4 linked regions of the Homo sapiens genome follow. The protein of the gene in region 3 purifies or fractionates together with the protein of the main gene of each other region. This does not show direct contact. Each region holds a gene or a part of one and is shown on either strand. Other genes may lie near its edges.

Evidence for each region.
Region 1: the proteins of CTDSPL2 (region 3) and IPP purify together in Homo sapiens (affinity purification with mass spectrometry; one large-scale study listed by BioGRID and IntAct). This does not show direct contact.
Region 2: the proteins of CTDSPL2 (region 3) and NIPBL purify together in Homo sapiens (affinity purification with mass spectrometry, with the first as the bait; one large-scale study listed by BioGRID). This does not show direct contact.
Region 4: the proteins of CTDSPL2 (region 3) and CPNE8 purify together in Homo sapiens (affinity purification with mass spectrometry; one large-scale study listed by BioGRID and IntAct). This does not show direct contact.

What each region holds. Positions count from the first base shown.
Region 1 is NC_000001.11:45,716,029-45,719,946, reverse strand, and holds part of IPP (actin-binding protein IPP), read left to right. Parts: intron 1-606; coding exon 607-744; intron 745-2,929; coding exon 2,930-3,052; intron 3,053-3,918. UniProt on the Homo sapiens protein: May play a role in organizing the actin cytoskeleton.
Region 2 is NC_000005.10:36,974,036-36,977,953, reverse strand, and holds part of NIPBL (nipped-B-like protein), read right to left. Parts: intron 2,179-3,918; coding exon 1,552-2,178; intron 1-1,551. UniProt on the Homo sapiens protein: Plays an important role in the loading of the cohesin complex on to DNA. Forms a heterodimeric complex (also known as cohesin loading complex) with MAU2/SCC4 which mediates the loading of the cohesin complex onto chromatin.
Region 3 is NC_000015.10:44,433,828-44,437,745, reverse strand, and holds part of CTDSPL2 (CTD small phosphatase-like protein 2), read right to left. Parts: intron 1-3,918. UniProt on the Homo sapiens protein: Probable phosphatase.
Region 4 is NC_000012.12:38,692,492-38,696,409, forward strand, and holds part of CPNE8 (copine-8), read right to left. Parts: intron 3,570-3,918; coding exon of another isoform or gene 3,553-3,569; exon of another isoform or gene 3,421-3,552; intron 1,348-3,420; coding exon 1,166-1,347; intron 1-1,165. UniProt on the Homo sapiens protein: Probable calcium-dependent phospholipid-binding protein that may play a role in calcium-mediated intracellular processes.

The sequences.
Region 1 (3,918 bases), on a different chromosome or scaffold from region 3:
CTTGTGATCCTGGCTAACAAGGTGAAACCCCGTCTCTACTAAAAATACAAAAAATTACCTGGGCGCGGTGGCAGGCGCCTGTAGTCCCAGCTACTCAGGAGGCTGAGGCAGGAGAATGTCATGAACCCAGGAGGCGGAGCTTGCAGTGAGCCGAGATTGTGCCACTGCACTCCAGCCTGGGCGACAGAGCGAGACTCCGTCTCCAAAAAAAGAAAAATTTCATTTTCTGTTTGTTGTTAGAAAAGGATTACATTAAAACTCAAATTGTACCAGGGCCAGCCACCAAAACTAATATGTGAAAAAAAATATAGAAGTGTTAAAATGCAAATTGTATCCTAAAACATTACATGGATTGTTTGATTGTTTGGGTGGTAGAAATAGATAATAGGAAAATTGTGCCTCTGTTTCATAAGTGGGCTTTAATAAATGACAGTGCTCTAGATTCAAAATACTGCTTGACAGGCAAATGAAAGTTAATGAATAGTATAAAATCAGACATAATGGTTGAATTTTTGACGATAGGGAATACTACTGAATATTGTGTTATGGTGCTAGTCTGTTGGCATTACTAAACTTTATAATATTTGTCTCTTTTATTTAACTCAGGTGAAAAGGATTCAATGATTTTTGATTGTACTGAATGCTATGATCCAGTTACTAAACAGTGGACAACTGTAGCTTCGATGAATCATCCCCGCTGCGGCTTAGGAGTGTGTGTGTGTTATGGGGCTATCTATGCTTTGGGTAATTATGTTGTTCAGTTTAAAGATAGCTAATATTGTTTATGTATTTTTAATTTTCATTTTTGTGGATACATAATAGGTATATATATTTATGGGGCACATGAGATACAGGCACATAATGCGTAATAATCACATCTTGTAAAATGGGATATCCATCTCCTCAAGTATTTATCCTTTATGTTACAAACAATCCAGTTATACTCTTCTAGTTATTTTTAAATGTACAATTAAATTATTGACTATAGTCACCCTGTTGCACTATCAAATACTAGGTCTTATTCATTCTTTTTTTTTTTTTTTTGTATTCATTAACCATGCCCACCTCCTCCCTCCCCACCCCCACTACACTACCCTTCCCAGCCTCTGGTAACCATCCTTCTACTCTCTATCTCCATGAGTTCAATTGTTTTGATTTTTAGATCCCACAAAGAAGTGAGAATATGCAATGTTTATAAAGATAGCTAATATTATTTAAATTATTGGGTTCTGATGACTTTGGAGATGTTCTTTCCCTCTTTTCAGCTCTTTACATTCTTTTTTTAAAAACCAACTGGCTTTAATCTGTATACTCTGGAGGCTGGGCAAGGTCTTAGGGGAAGGTGTAGGTGGGGGTCAGCTGGTCAGGGATTGGAGGGGGTGCTCCTGGGCTGTCCATCCTAAGGAGGCACTCAGGCGGGGGATGGTACAGGAGGACCTGAGCACCTGCAGGGCAGAGCCTTGTTGGGCAGATGCATCAGTTCTTGGGCAGATGGTAGATGCCTGCCTGGCCAGTTGGCTGGCTGACCAAGCTGCTAGTCACACACATTCTTCTGCAGGTATCTCTGGAGCTACTGTATGCTGTAGATGCACTTGTCAGCTCTTTAAATTCTTATTCTCAAAATTGTATTACTGGAGATAAAATATAGATGAGACATCCAGTGAAGTACTTTAGCTGAGTAGTTAAATCTCATTATTTTAATTAAGCATATAACATTTTTACCACCCTGCATAGTGGCCTAATTATGTCTAATATAAGAAAGCACATACCAAAAAATTAAATATATCACAAGGAAGTTCTGTACTATATTATTTTTATTCTTGTATATGTAGTGAATGATTATGAGCAAGGTATTCTACTTTGATTATCTGTGTAACAAATGTTACAATCAAGGTTGTTCCTAGGGAAAGTTATAAGTTGATGTAGCTCTCAGCCTCCCCTATTTTCTCCTTCTCACTCCTTCTTCAGTTCACTGTAACTCAGTGTCTTCCCCTCATCCAAACCTATTGTGGAAAAAATATCAGTTACCTTAAGGTGAATTTAATCTATTATATTTTATTACCTCCATAAGTATCTGCATTTTTCAGTTAATTGTGGGAAATAATATTTTCAGTTTTAAGAATTGGAGAGTGTTGGCTGGACATGGTGGCTTACGCCTGTAATCCCAGCACTTTGGGAGGCTGAGGCGGGCGGATCATGAAGTCAGGAGATCGAGACCAACTTGGCTAACATGGTGAAACCCTGTCTCTACTAAAAATACAAACAAAATTAGCTGGGCGTGGTGGTGGGCGCCTGTAGTCTCAGCTACTCCGGAGGCTGAGGCAGGAGAATGGCATGAACCCAGGAGGTGGAGCTTGCACTGAGCCTGAGCCGAGATTGCACCACTGCACTCCAGCCTGGGTGACACAGTGAGACTCCATCTCAAAAAAAAAAAGAATTGGAGAGTGTTAAGAAAATGTTATTGTGGGGATAAGGGGCCTTTTTGAAATTCCTGAAATTACACCAAATACACGGTATACTCTGATTAGGTTTGGAGCTGGCCTTGATTAGGATAAACATTCTAAATAGCCAGAAGTAATTTCAAAAGGTAGTTTTGCAAAATACCATCTTTTCCATGCAATATATTGAAGTTTTGGGGCTTTTGTTGTTTTGTTTTGTTTTAGTCTTTAGTGAAAAATAGGGAGTTAAAAGACTTGAATTCCTTTTTTTTTTTTTTTTTTTTTTTCTCAAAAGAGCATCAGTTATGCAAAGGACCTGAGTTCTACTCATGGTCAAATTCTAACTTTTTCATGGGATCGTGGAACAGATAACCTCTTTGGCTCATGTGATATCTATAATATGAAGTATTTGGTTTAGATGTTTTCTAAGGTCTTTGTCATAAATAAGAATCTTTTATCCCGGAAACAAACATTTTTCTATTTCATTACAGGTGGATGGGTTGGAGCTGAGATAGGGAACACCATTGAACGATTTGATCCTGATGAAAATAAATGGGAAGTAGTTGGTAACATGGCTGTGTCACGCTACTACTTTGGGTGCTGTGAAATGCAAGGTAATCACTTTATAAAATATTTTTCCTCAAAATGTAGTTCTGAAAAACTGTTTGAGTTTGAGGCCTTATTTTCACAAAAGTATATTTTAAGTCTGTTAGTATTGAATGACTGATACTAGCAGCATAGAAGTTCTGCTTTTTACCTCCTATCATTGACTTTTATTTCTGTATTGCTAAAATAATTGATTTGATTTTTTCAGAAATAAACAAGGCTAGAATTAAAAATTGTAAGTAAGCAGGAATATCTGACTAGCACAATAAACATTTGAAGTGTTATCTGTTATTGTCTTTTCTCTCCCATGAACATCTAAGTAAATATTTCTAAGTAGGGAGAGAGTATCAGAAACAGTTTTTGGGTGTGGTGGCTCATGCCTGTAATCCCAGCACTTTGGGAGGCTGAGGCAGGAGGATCACCTGAGGTTAGGAGTTCGAGACCATCCTGGCCAACGTGGTGAAACCTCATTTCTACTAAAAATACAAAAATTAGCTGGGCATGTTACTACACACCTGTAATCCCAACTACTAGGGAGGCTGAGGCAGGATAATTGCTTGAACCCAGGAGGCAGAGGTTGCAGTGAGCGAGATGGTGCCACTGCACTGCAGCCTGGGTAACAGTGAGACTCTATCTCAAAAAATAAATAAAAATAAATTATTTTCATGGTCTATAGGCTTCTTTAGCGTTTTTTTTCTACAAAGTACATTGTGATGCCGCTCACATAACATATAATCCTGTGACAGATTTAAAGGATTCTATGTTGCATATTAAAGTGGTATACAAACATTATTTTAATTGTCTACTATACTCTTGAGAGGTAGGTAGTAAGCTGTTTTAACTAGAACCTAATTCTCTGTGTAGGATTGGAGAG
Region 2 (3,918 bases), on a different chromosome or scaffold from region 3:
TAAAGAAGAATGAAATCATGTCCTCTGCAGCAACATGGATGCAGTTTGAGGCCATTATCTACCCTAAGTGAAATAATGCAGAAACAGAAAATGAAACACTACAGGTTCTCACTTATAAGTGGGAATTCAACAATGGGTACACACGGACATAAAGTTAGAAACAACAGACACAGGGGACTCAAAAAGGGGGAAAAAGGGACGAAGCCAAGGTTGAAAAACTATCTAATGGGTACTATGATCACTATTTGGGTGACGGGTTCACTACAAGCCCAAATCTCACCACCACACAATATACCCACGTAACAAACCCCTGTACATATATCCCCTGAATCTATATTAAAAAAAAAAAAAGACAAAGAAAAAAAAACCCAGCTCCCTAGCCAGTAAAATGAAGACTTCTAGCAATCTCTTTATTTGCATCTATTTCTGATTTACATATGTTGCAAACATTGTAGTACAACAATTACTAAATACAGTCCATTTTTTTTCAATAACATTAAAATGAGCCATCATGACAGACAGGAAATATAATACTAATCTTCAGCATGTTTCTTAGCATAGAAACACAATTATCTTGTCATGATCCTGTCAAACACTGAACACATCATATATAAAAATCAGCTCTACCCAATATCAAGAAGTTTTATCATTACCAAGAAATAAAATATAAGAACTGAAAATCAACCTAAAATATTTTAATCATAAAATTAAATCATAAAGCATGCTTTTGGTCTGATCAAATGTGTATATGCATTTATATAGCAATCAAATTCATCAATTATATTGCTAATTTGAATCACTGATTCATCAGTCTCTTAAAACATGAAAGAAATTTTGTATACAGTGTATACCAAATTACTAAGAACTTACTATGAATTTATTTTTGTTTGATTATGAAGCGCAAGGAAAGCTCATAAACTCATAGACCAGGTATGTCTTGAAACTCCATCCTAACATACTAGTCAGACAAAAGGGAACACTTCACTGTAATTACCACCAAAAGACTCTTAATTTCTAAGGTTTGCTATTTAATATTAACTCTTTCCATGATTTGTTTACTAAAAAAATTTGACATTATTAAGCCAGTAGGATCATAAACCAAGTGAAATATCTAACTGCCTAATAAGCATACACATGAGCTTTTCTTAAGTGTACCTGTTCAAAATAATTCTACAGTGGTTAACCTTGTTTTAGCAGAAAAAAATTTGAAGGTGCACAACAATATTAATGTAACTTGTGAAATATACATGTTATATAGAAATGCTAATGTTCATTTTAGCAGAAAAGCACAAATAAGTAAAATCATATAGTACATAATGAGTAACAGACCTGTAGTAGAGAATTACCAAATCTCATATAGTTGTTTCAGACAATAAATGAAATTGTTACGAATTTAACTTCTGCATTATGAGTATTAGTAATAAAAATATGTACTTGAGTAGACATAAATTATACAAAATATTCGGGAAAAAAGTAATGTGAAAAAAATTTTTGACACTATAATTACATATTTGCCCAGATGATGAAGTGGTAATAATGAGATTATTTTACCTTTATCTTGAACTTCTTTTGAGAAGCGCTCCCTTTCAATAGCTGATTCTCTCTCTATTCGCTCAATTTCAGCCAATGCATCCAATTCCACTTCATCATATATAGGTCCCTGTTGTGATATCTGTTGTTGATTCTGTACCACAGAAGTCTGGGGTTGTTTTGCAGCAACTGAAGTGTTCTGTTGTAAAACAGGCACTTGATTTGCTGGAAGGAATGCTGTTTGTTCTTGCTGCGACAAACATTGAGCAGCATTTAGTGGGCGGTTTATATCTTGTGGAGTAATGGGTGTTTTTGAAGTCTGTCCTGGGTACTGCACATTAAAAGGAATATCATTTTCTGAAACATTGCTATTTTCCACACCAGAAATCATATCCTCTTGCTGGTCCATGTCTGAAGACCTTACACGAGAAAGTCTTAATGTAAGTTTAGTAGAGTCCTTGGATGGAGAACTAATTATATCATACATTGCCGCTTTCTCACTCTGCTCTTTTTCATCCTTGCCTAATTTCATTTTCTTCTGCTTCTTTTGTTTTCTTTCTGGAGAATCTAGCAAGATATCTGGTGGAACATCTCGAGGTGATGAACAAGGTAGAGACTGAGATTGTAGGATTAAAGGTGGTCTTGAGCCTAGAAAAATAATTCGATAGAAGTAACAGTTGTGGTGGTTTCACATTTTCTTACAATGTGATAGAAATATTAATAAGTGACAATATAGTAATACTAGAAAAAAATAAGAAATTATATAATCCAAGCTACTTATTTACGAAAGATGAAAAGAAAGCTTAAAAACTTGTCCCACACAGTTGTTTAGCTTGCTAGTAGTTAATCTAAAATCTAGGTTTGAATCTAAGTATGAGTATTCAATTTTTCAGACCAGTATTATTTCTATATTTTTGTGCCTATAAAGTATACATATTTAGCTTTATAGGGGTAAAAAGTTCATTGCTTCTAAAGATGATACAACACAAATATTTTGGGTATGACCATCTCTGTTCTTTCATGGACTATCTGGGAAAACAGATATATCCTGATTAAAGTAAGAATAAGTACGCTTTTGTTAAATTACACAAAAATAACAATTTAATCCTAGAGACTATCTTACATGAATACTACTGGGATGATAACAAAAAGCAAGTGGTCAATTTACAATTACTAGAGCCTTTACTTACTTCAAAAACTGGTGGTAAAATATTGATTTATACTTTTATGTGGTCTTCTCTTTCTCCCTTAACATCATTCACATACTCTCTTCAGCTTGCTAATCCTCTTTTTATTAGAAAAATAAATAAGTTCAGTAAATTTCAAGGCCCAATAAAATATATTGAGCCCAGAGTCCATTAAATCAACCAATGTTATATGAAACAGGAAAGTGTTAAAAATAATCAGATGGAAAAATTATCCTAGTTAATAAGCCTTCAGACAAAAATTCTCCTTCAGACATGAAGGAAAAAGTGCATTGATATGCTTCAGAAATAATAGTATAACTGCATCTGAATAATGTATACATTTCTTATCACTAAACTATAAAATATTTAAAAACTTGTAAGAAATTGTAAAAATTGGTCAAGATAAAAGTTTTTTTACAGACAGAACTTAAACCTAGAACTGCCTTCAATTAAGCTTTCAGTCTTTTTCCATGATACATAAATCTGGACTTTCAGTTAGCAAGGTTAATGTATTTTAAATGTTATATATAAACATACAACTTTATTTATTGACTCTAGTGTGATAAAGATGATATGGGAGCAATTAACTATAAATGTTAGTCTAACATTTTGTGTCAGAGTTGTGAAAGGTGCTTTACATATCAATTCACTTGATTTTTACAACATTCTTGAGTATTATCTTTAAAATTTTTCAGAAATGGAACATGAAGCCTACAGAGGTTAAGAAATTTGCCCAAGGTTATGTAGTTAACAAACCTGAAGATTTAAAACAAGATTTGTCTAAGTCTGAATTGTAATATACCATTATGCCTTTGTATTTAAATTCTATGTGGCAAATTATATACACTTTAGAACAAACTTCAAATTCTAATAATTAATCTAAAAATCAAGATAGACTGACAATGCACTTACCCTTCAAAACTAGTTAGAAAACAACTTCATGACAGAAGTTCAAGCTTTTGGTGAATAATATATTAGTGAGGTTATTTGTTTTAAAGTTTTCCATTTCTATCTAAAGTTCATCTACTATTTATCTATCTAATCTCAAGAGTCAGAAGAAAAAAAGCTAGTTATCTAGATCAATCACCTATCTCCCTGTTCTCTTTCCCCGGCAATCTAAATAACTTCTCACCTTGACAACACTTGTGGGATATGTATCTAACCTACAAATAGTTACTCTGGAAGTTTTTCTCTCTTTCAG
Region 3 (3,918 bases):
TTGCACTAGACTGTAAGAGTCTTGAAGGTAGATGCTGGATCCATAATTCTAGTAACCTGGCACACGAGTTAACTCAATCTTTGTTGAACTAAGCCACAATTTTTCTAATCTCTCTCAAAAAGGCCATATAATTGGGGTGAAGGAGACCGTATCACTGAAACATAAACAATCTTCACATCAATACTTAATTCTTGCCTACAAAAATGGGCTTATAAATAAAACTAAAAGTTTCTTCCTCATAAGATTTCCTTCCCCTTCACAAAATCCATGATACCAAGCAATTTTTGAGGCAGACAATTATGGTTTCAAATTGCCTTGTATTAACAATATGATTACAATAATGATAAAAGCATAAATTCAGTTGATAATCTGCTCCCAAGGTCTTGAATGCACACATTTCTACCTAAACAACATTAAGAGAAAATAGCACATTGTATATGAAGAATTCTCAACAAATTAGAACTTACTTATGTGCCCTCTTTACAAATGTATTTGCTAATTGAATGAGAAGTGGTATACAGCTTGAGCATCCCTACTAGGAAAATCTGAAATACAAAAATCTGAAAATCCGAAATGCCCCAAAATCCAAGTTTTTGAGCACCAACATACATAATGTCACAAGTGGAAAATTCCACCCCGACTTAATGTGACGAGTCAGTCAAAATGCAGTCAAAACTGTTTCATGCACAAAACTATTAAAAATATTGTTTAAAATTACCTTCAGACTATGTGTGTAAGGTACTTATGAAACATAAATGAATTTCATGTTTAAACTTGGGTCCTTTCCAAGATACCTCATTATGTATATGCAAATATTCCAAAATCCAAAAAAATCTGAAATCCAAAACACTTCTGATACCAAGCATTTTGGATGAGGGATACTCAACCTGTTCTGATGTGTCATGCATTAAGAGAGAAACAAGAGTAGATAACACATATAAATAAAGAAAATTACAAAAAGATCACAAATCAAACATTAAAGGCAACAAAGTCAAGATTTGCTGTAAAACTTTATGTATATTTACAGTTGGCTATATAAAAAATAATACATGCATGCAAGGTTCTAGAGTAGACTCCTGAAGGAGTTACTAAAGGAATGACCTCCAGACTAAGAGGTGGACACACTCAGTTTCCAGTCCTTAATCTATCATTAGTTAGCTGTGAGACACTGCTTAAGTCATGCAATCATTCTAGCACTTTGTTTCCTCAACAGCAAAAGAAATTATTGGACATCAGATCTGGCATTTCACATGTAAATTTTACCTAAAAAATAAACAAACAAAGAGCTGTCAAAATGGGAGATGAGTCATTAATTAATCAGAGCTGTCTTCATCCTTCCATCATATACAACTCATCCTGCAGCAACCTCATTAAGACAAACATTCACTACATGTTAAGGAGTCTTCAGAATGATTCATCACAATAAAACACAAATGTTATTGGACTAGATGACCTCTTTGGTCTCCTCCAGCTCTAAAATTCTCTGGGTCTGTTAATTTATACTCTACCTTACAAATGGTATGATTACTAAATTTACATTAACTTACTATATTCATGAAAGAAAAAGCTAAAGTCATTGCCCTCTTTGACACCAAATGACATTTTCAAAAGTAGCAGCATGTTTCCACTTAGTCTACATTTCTAGCCTGACTAATCTGAAATCAAGTTTCAGGTATTACAACTGTCCACCTTTACTCTCCACTACTTCCATAAGCCTTCATTATAAAAGGAGGAGGAGGACTTGGGGAAAAAACAGATTTCTCCGTCACCTAAGAAAAAAAATCAAGACAACTAGGGAAGAAGGACTAAGTATAGGAGCATTATATAAAATATCAACTTGGCCAGGTGCGATGGCTCACACCTGTAATCCCAGCACTTTGGGAGGCCGAGGCGGGTGGACCACTTGAGGTCTGGAGTTCGAGACCAGCCTGGCCAACATGGCGAAACCCCGTCTCTACTAAAAGCACAAAAATTAGCCAGGCGTGGTGGTGCACACCTGTAATCCCAGCTACTCAAGAGGCTGAGGCAGGAGAATCGCTTGAACCCGGGAGGCAGAGGTTGCAGTGAGCTCAGATTGCGCCACTGCGCTCCAGATTGGGTGACAGAGCGAGACTCCGCCTCAAAAAAAAAAAAAAAACAACTCTACAACAGGAAGATTCTCTTTTTTTTTTTGGTTTTGAGACAGAGTTTCTCTCCTTGCCCAGGCTGGACTGCGATGGCGCGATCTCAGCTCACTGCAACCTCCGCCTCCAGGGTTCAAGCAATTCCCTGTCTCAGCCTCCCGAGTAGCTGGGATTACAGGCATGCGCTACCATGCCCGCCTAATTTTTGTATTTTTGGTAGAGACGGGGTTTCGCCATGTTGGCCAAGCTGGTCTTGAACTCCTGACCTAAGGTGATCCACCTGCCTTGGCCTCCCAGAGTGGTGGGATTACACGCGTGAGCCATTGCGCACAGTTAGAAGGATTCTTTTTTTTTTTTTTTTTTTTTGAGACGGAGTCTCACTCTGTCGCCCAGGCTAGGGCACAGTGGCGTGATCTCGGCTCACTGTAACCTCTGCCTCCCGGGTTCATGCAATTCTCCTGCCTCAGCCCCCGTGGCTGGGATTACAGGTGCACACCACCGCGCCCAGCTAATTTTTGTATTTTTAGTAGAGACAGGGTTTCACCATGTTGGTCAGGCTGGTCTCAAACTCCTGACCTTGTAATCCGCCTGCCTTGGCCTCCGAAAGTGCTGGGATTACAGGCGTGCGCCACTGTGTCTGGTCGAAGGTTATTTTAATCCTATTCACAACAAAGTGTGTGATAAAGACAGGTGGTCTTTCTGGATCATCAATATTTCTGATATATGGTCTTCTCTGCTTTTCCATTTAGCTAATATTATAAAATTATTTAAAAACTACTAAATATAATAAACTTATCAAAAACATTTGGCAAAATACAGAACTATACAAAAAATAAAACAACTGAGTTAGGCTGATAAAATTATAGGGTTTTCTCTGACTTAAAGTTTTCTTCAATAAATAAGAAAGAAAAGAATGTGTTTTTGGCCGGGCACAGTGACTCACTCACACCTGTAATCTCAGCACTTTGGAAGGCCCACCTAGGAAGAGGTCACTTGAGACTAAGAGTTCAAGACCAGCCTAGGCAACAGTGAGACCCTGCCTTTATTTAAAAATTTTAAAACTTGGCCAGGCGTGGTGGTGCACACCTGTAGTTCCAACTACTTGGGAGGCTGCGGCAGGAGGATCGCTTGAGCCCAGGAGGTGAAGGCTGCAGTAAACTGTGACTGTGCCATTGTACTCCAGCCTAGGTGAGAGAGTAAGACTCTGTCTTCTTTTTTTTTCTTGAGACTGAGTCTTGCTCTGCCGTCAGGCTGCAGTGCAGTGGCACGATCTCAGCTCACTGCAACCTCCTCCTCCCAGGTTCAAGCAATTCTCCTGCTTCAGCCTCCTGAGTAGCTGGGACTACAGGCATGCGCCACCATGCCCAGCTAATTTTTGTATTTTTAGTAGAGATGGGGTTTCGCCATGTTGGCCAGGATGATCTCGATCTCTGGACCTCATGATCTGCCCATCTTGGCCTCCCAAAGTGCTGGGATTACAAGCGTGAGCCACCACGCCCAGTCAAGACCCTATCTCTTAAGAAAAAAATAAATAAATAAATAAATAAATAACAATGATTTTTCTAAAACCATTATCAATCTGTTTTCTCTAGAGAAGCAATATATGGGTTGTTAGATTACTGATGACTAAAACACACTCTTAAAATATACACTGATTTTTTTTTTTTTTGAGACGAGAGTCTTGCTCTGTTGCCCAGGCTGGAGTGCAGTGGCGCAATCTCGATTCACTGCAACCTCCATCTCCTGGGTTCAAGCGATTCTCCTGCCTTAGCCTCCCAAGTAGATGGGATTACAG
Region 4 (3,918 bases), on a different chromosome or scaffold from region 3:
GTTTCCTTTGAGTATCTTATTGAGTTCAAAAAGTTTCAGATTTTGGAACATTTACTTTTCTGATTTTGGAGGCTAAACCAGTATATATTTGTATAGGTTTGGTTACAAGGAATGAACACAGAGGCAGGAAAGGCAGCAAAGGAGAGAATTACAGAGACAGAGAAAGGGAAACATTCAATGGTGAGAAGAAACATATGAAAGGAAAATTAATAAACCTCATTTAGTTTAACACAATTATTTCTTTTCTTAGGTTTTAAAAATGATGGTACATTACAGAGAGCCACACATTCTTTGATACTCTTCCCATTGAGAAGTGAAGGTTAATTCCTCTACCTTGAACCTGGGATGGTCTTAGTAACTTGCCTGACCAATAGGATGTTGCAGAAATAACATTTTGGGACTTCTAAGAATATGATATAAACATCCTTGGAGTTTCTGTCCTAGACTTTTAGATTACTCACCCTGGGAAAGCTGGCTGCTACATAAGAAATCTTGCTACAGTGAGACCACTATACAGTTCTGAAGCCCTCCATAACTACAGAGACAGGCCATATGTAAAACAAGGGAGAGTTGTCCAGGCAACCCCAGCTTTTCAGCTATCCAAGCTCAGGCCCAAGACATGAATGAACATGAGCAAAGAAGTTATGTTAGGAGACATATCAGCCCCAGAAGACATAACATGGAGAAGATCTAAGGAATTCAAAAGACAGCCAGAACTAAGTTGAAAAATATGGCCCCAGTCACCAATTCCAGGCATCTCTAGCCATTCAAGTCACCTAAGCTGAGACTCCAGGTACTGCAAAGCAAAAATGCGCTGTCTCCCATTATATTCTGCTTGAATTCCTGAGGCACAAATCATAAGCATAATAGAATGATATTGTTTGATATCTCTAAGTTTTAGGAAGGTTTGTTAGCAAGCAATAGATAACCAAAATAGACCCCCATTTGTAAATCAGGTGGGTGCACTTCAGGTAGATTTATGGCTAAGCTATTTAGCTGTCCTTTTTTCCCATTAAGTTCACACTCCAAAGTCAATTACTTACCAAAATTAAGCTACAGTCAGTAAAGCTTGCTACTTGACTGACTAAAGAATAAGTACCAAAGCAATATTAAAAGGTCTAACATTAATTTTTCAAAACATCAAATCCTTTTGACAAATTCTTACCAAAGCAAATTCGTGAGATATCCTTCCATCTGGAGGCAGTTTTGCACCAAATCCTAGAGCTGGAAACATTTTATCACTGTCATAATCTTGAACAATTTCTCCCACTGCTTTTAGTGCCATACCATAGGCATTCAGTTGGTAAGGATTCATGTAGTGGAGGGAAGTGGGCTGAGCAGGGTTGCCTGATGACAGAACACATATTTCAAACATAAGCAATTAGGGTAAATAAATTTAACAAAATTTTTCTTGGTGTCTATTTCAGAATGAAATATTCAAAATTATGTTTTTCTGCCTATATACAGTGTGTCAAATCATTTCTTTTTGGATGGATATTAACACAGAAATATTTGTTATATTATATTAGACATATAGAAAGTTCTAAGATATGCCAAAGCATACGCAGAAGTTTTCAGAAATGATTCTTATTTTCAATGCCACAGGGTATTTTTGAGTTTTTGTTCTGGAAGTATAAAAGTACTTTTGTTAATCTTATTTTATTGTAATCTTTATTTTTAAACAAAATCATGTGCCTTTAGCTTGAATCCTTATGCCTATGGCAAGATGACCCAATAGATTTAATGGACTTCAATAATTATGAAGGCTTCCTATAAATAACTGAATATTTGAGAAGTATCCCAATTTAGCACTTAAAAAAGGGAAGTATAGTGATTTTCAAGTGCAGGCTGATTAAATATCTAGATCTAAAAAATTCTTCACAACTTTCGAATGAGACATTAAGCTAGGAGCCAGAGGCCAGAGTCAAGTCTTGCCATTTGTATGGCAGCCTCTGTAAAATAAATCCTACCACTGTGTTTACCCGGAGGACAAAATGAGATTACACGTTTAAAAGTGATTAAAAATAATAAAGCACCATAAAATTGTAAGCTGAACTGCTGCAGTTATTATAGTCTGGGTCATCCACAAGGTTCTGAATTTCAAAATGCTTATACTGTGTAGGATGTTGCACTTGAATAGTGATGAAATTGAGAGAAAGTGTAATGTATTAATATGTGCTACCACTCAAACACATTGAAATTCACAACAAGTTGCCCTAATTACCAGCATAAAGGCAGCCTGAAAGTCCATTTGGTTCCTTAAATAAAAATGGAAAGTTAAATGAGACTTGTAGCAGCATATGAACCTCAATTTTACGTTAAAGCATTGTCTGAAGAAGAAAAGCCTCAGGACATAGTTTTTCTGATAAGGAACAAAAGTAACAAAAAGCACTTGAGATCCAGAGAGAAACAAAATAAAGATCTCCCCTTGGGTTATTTGACAGGTAATTATACACATAATATTTTTGTCCTAAAAACAATTAATTGAACTTTTTTTTATTTTATATTTCCAAGAGTTACCAGCGTTCAAGGGCTGGCTCCACATAACAAAATCACTAAAAAAGTATCTTCTTATCAAAATGGCCTAATGTTCCCCTCAACTTGACTAAACTTGTAGAAAGTTCCTTCCTGACTATAAGACCCTGACCGCTCTTTTCTTACAGCTCTCACTTTAGAAAACTTGCAATTGTAAATTCTTCCTCTGCACCTTTGAGATGTAAATCTTCTACAACCAAGGAGTATCTTTCTCAAGGACATGGAAGGCATCCCTTTGAAATATAAACATCAAGAAAAACAGCAGCCCTATCTTCCAGTCTCCGTGAGAAGATAGAAGCCTAACTTCAATAAGAACCAATTAGCAAACAGAGATGGCCTAAGCACACAAACCAACTTCCGGGCTAATGTCCTCTAGGACTTTTCCAGTAGCTCACCTCAGCAAGCACAAACACTCCAACCTTTTGTTTTGGAGTAGTTGAGTTCAATTTTTGTCCTCTGTTGTAACAGTCTTGACCCCTTTGCAATGGTCTTAAATAAAGCCTTTCTTGCCTTTTTAATGTGTCCAGTGTGATTTTTCTTTGACACTTGCTTCTAAAGTAGGGACTTTGCCACTTGATCCAAAGCCCAGTGGAATCAGAGATTTAAAAATACCATTACTAGACTAAATGGTTATTTAACACAACTCTCATGCCTGAAATCCTAGCACTCTGGGAGGCTGAGGCAGGTGGACAGCTTGAGCCCAGGAGTTTGCAACCAGCCTGGCCAACATGGTGAAACCCTGCCTCTACAAAAAATACAAAAATCAGCTGGGTGTGGTGGCATGTGCCTGTAGTCTCAGCTGCTCAGGAAGCTGAGATGTGGGAGATCACTTGAGTCCGGGAGGTCAAGGGTGCAGTGAGCCCCTGATAGTGTCACTGTACTCCAGCCTGAGCAACAGAGCAAGACCCTGTCTCAAAAACAAACACAAACAAACAAACAAACGAATACTTCCCCCAACTCTCAAACTCACAAATATAGAAGAGTTTTAATCCAATGGTGACAATATGGCAAATACTTTTACTTCACTATGAAAACTGTAAATAAAAAAATATAATTAGTACCCCAGAACATTTAAACATTTTAACCTAACATGCATAGCTGGGCCCTTTGTACCCATACAAAGATGTTACCTATCTCTTTCCAGCATCTTCCTCTACACCAGTCTCTTCACATTACTGCTAATGATACTTTCCCTCCCACCTCTACCTCTCAAGTTGCCACCCTGTCCTGAAATTCACCTTCTCCTCCTCCAACTTATGTCTCACACATACTAGACAACCCTTTTTGTTTATTCCAGCCCTTATTGTCTTTTCTCTTATACTGTTATGGATCTTGTGTTCTATACTAAAAAAAAAAAAAAAATGGCAATTTAAAGTATTGAGT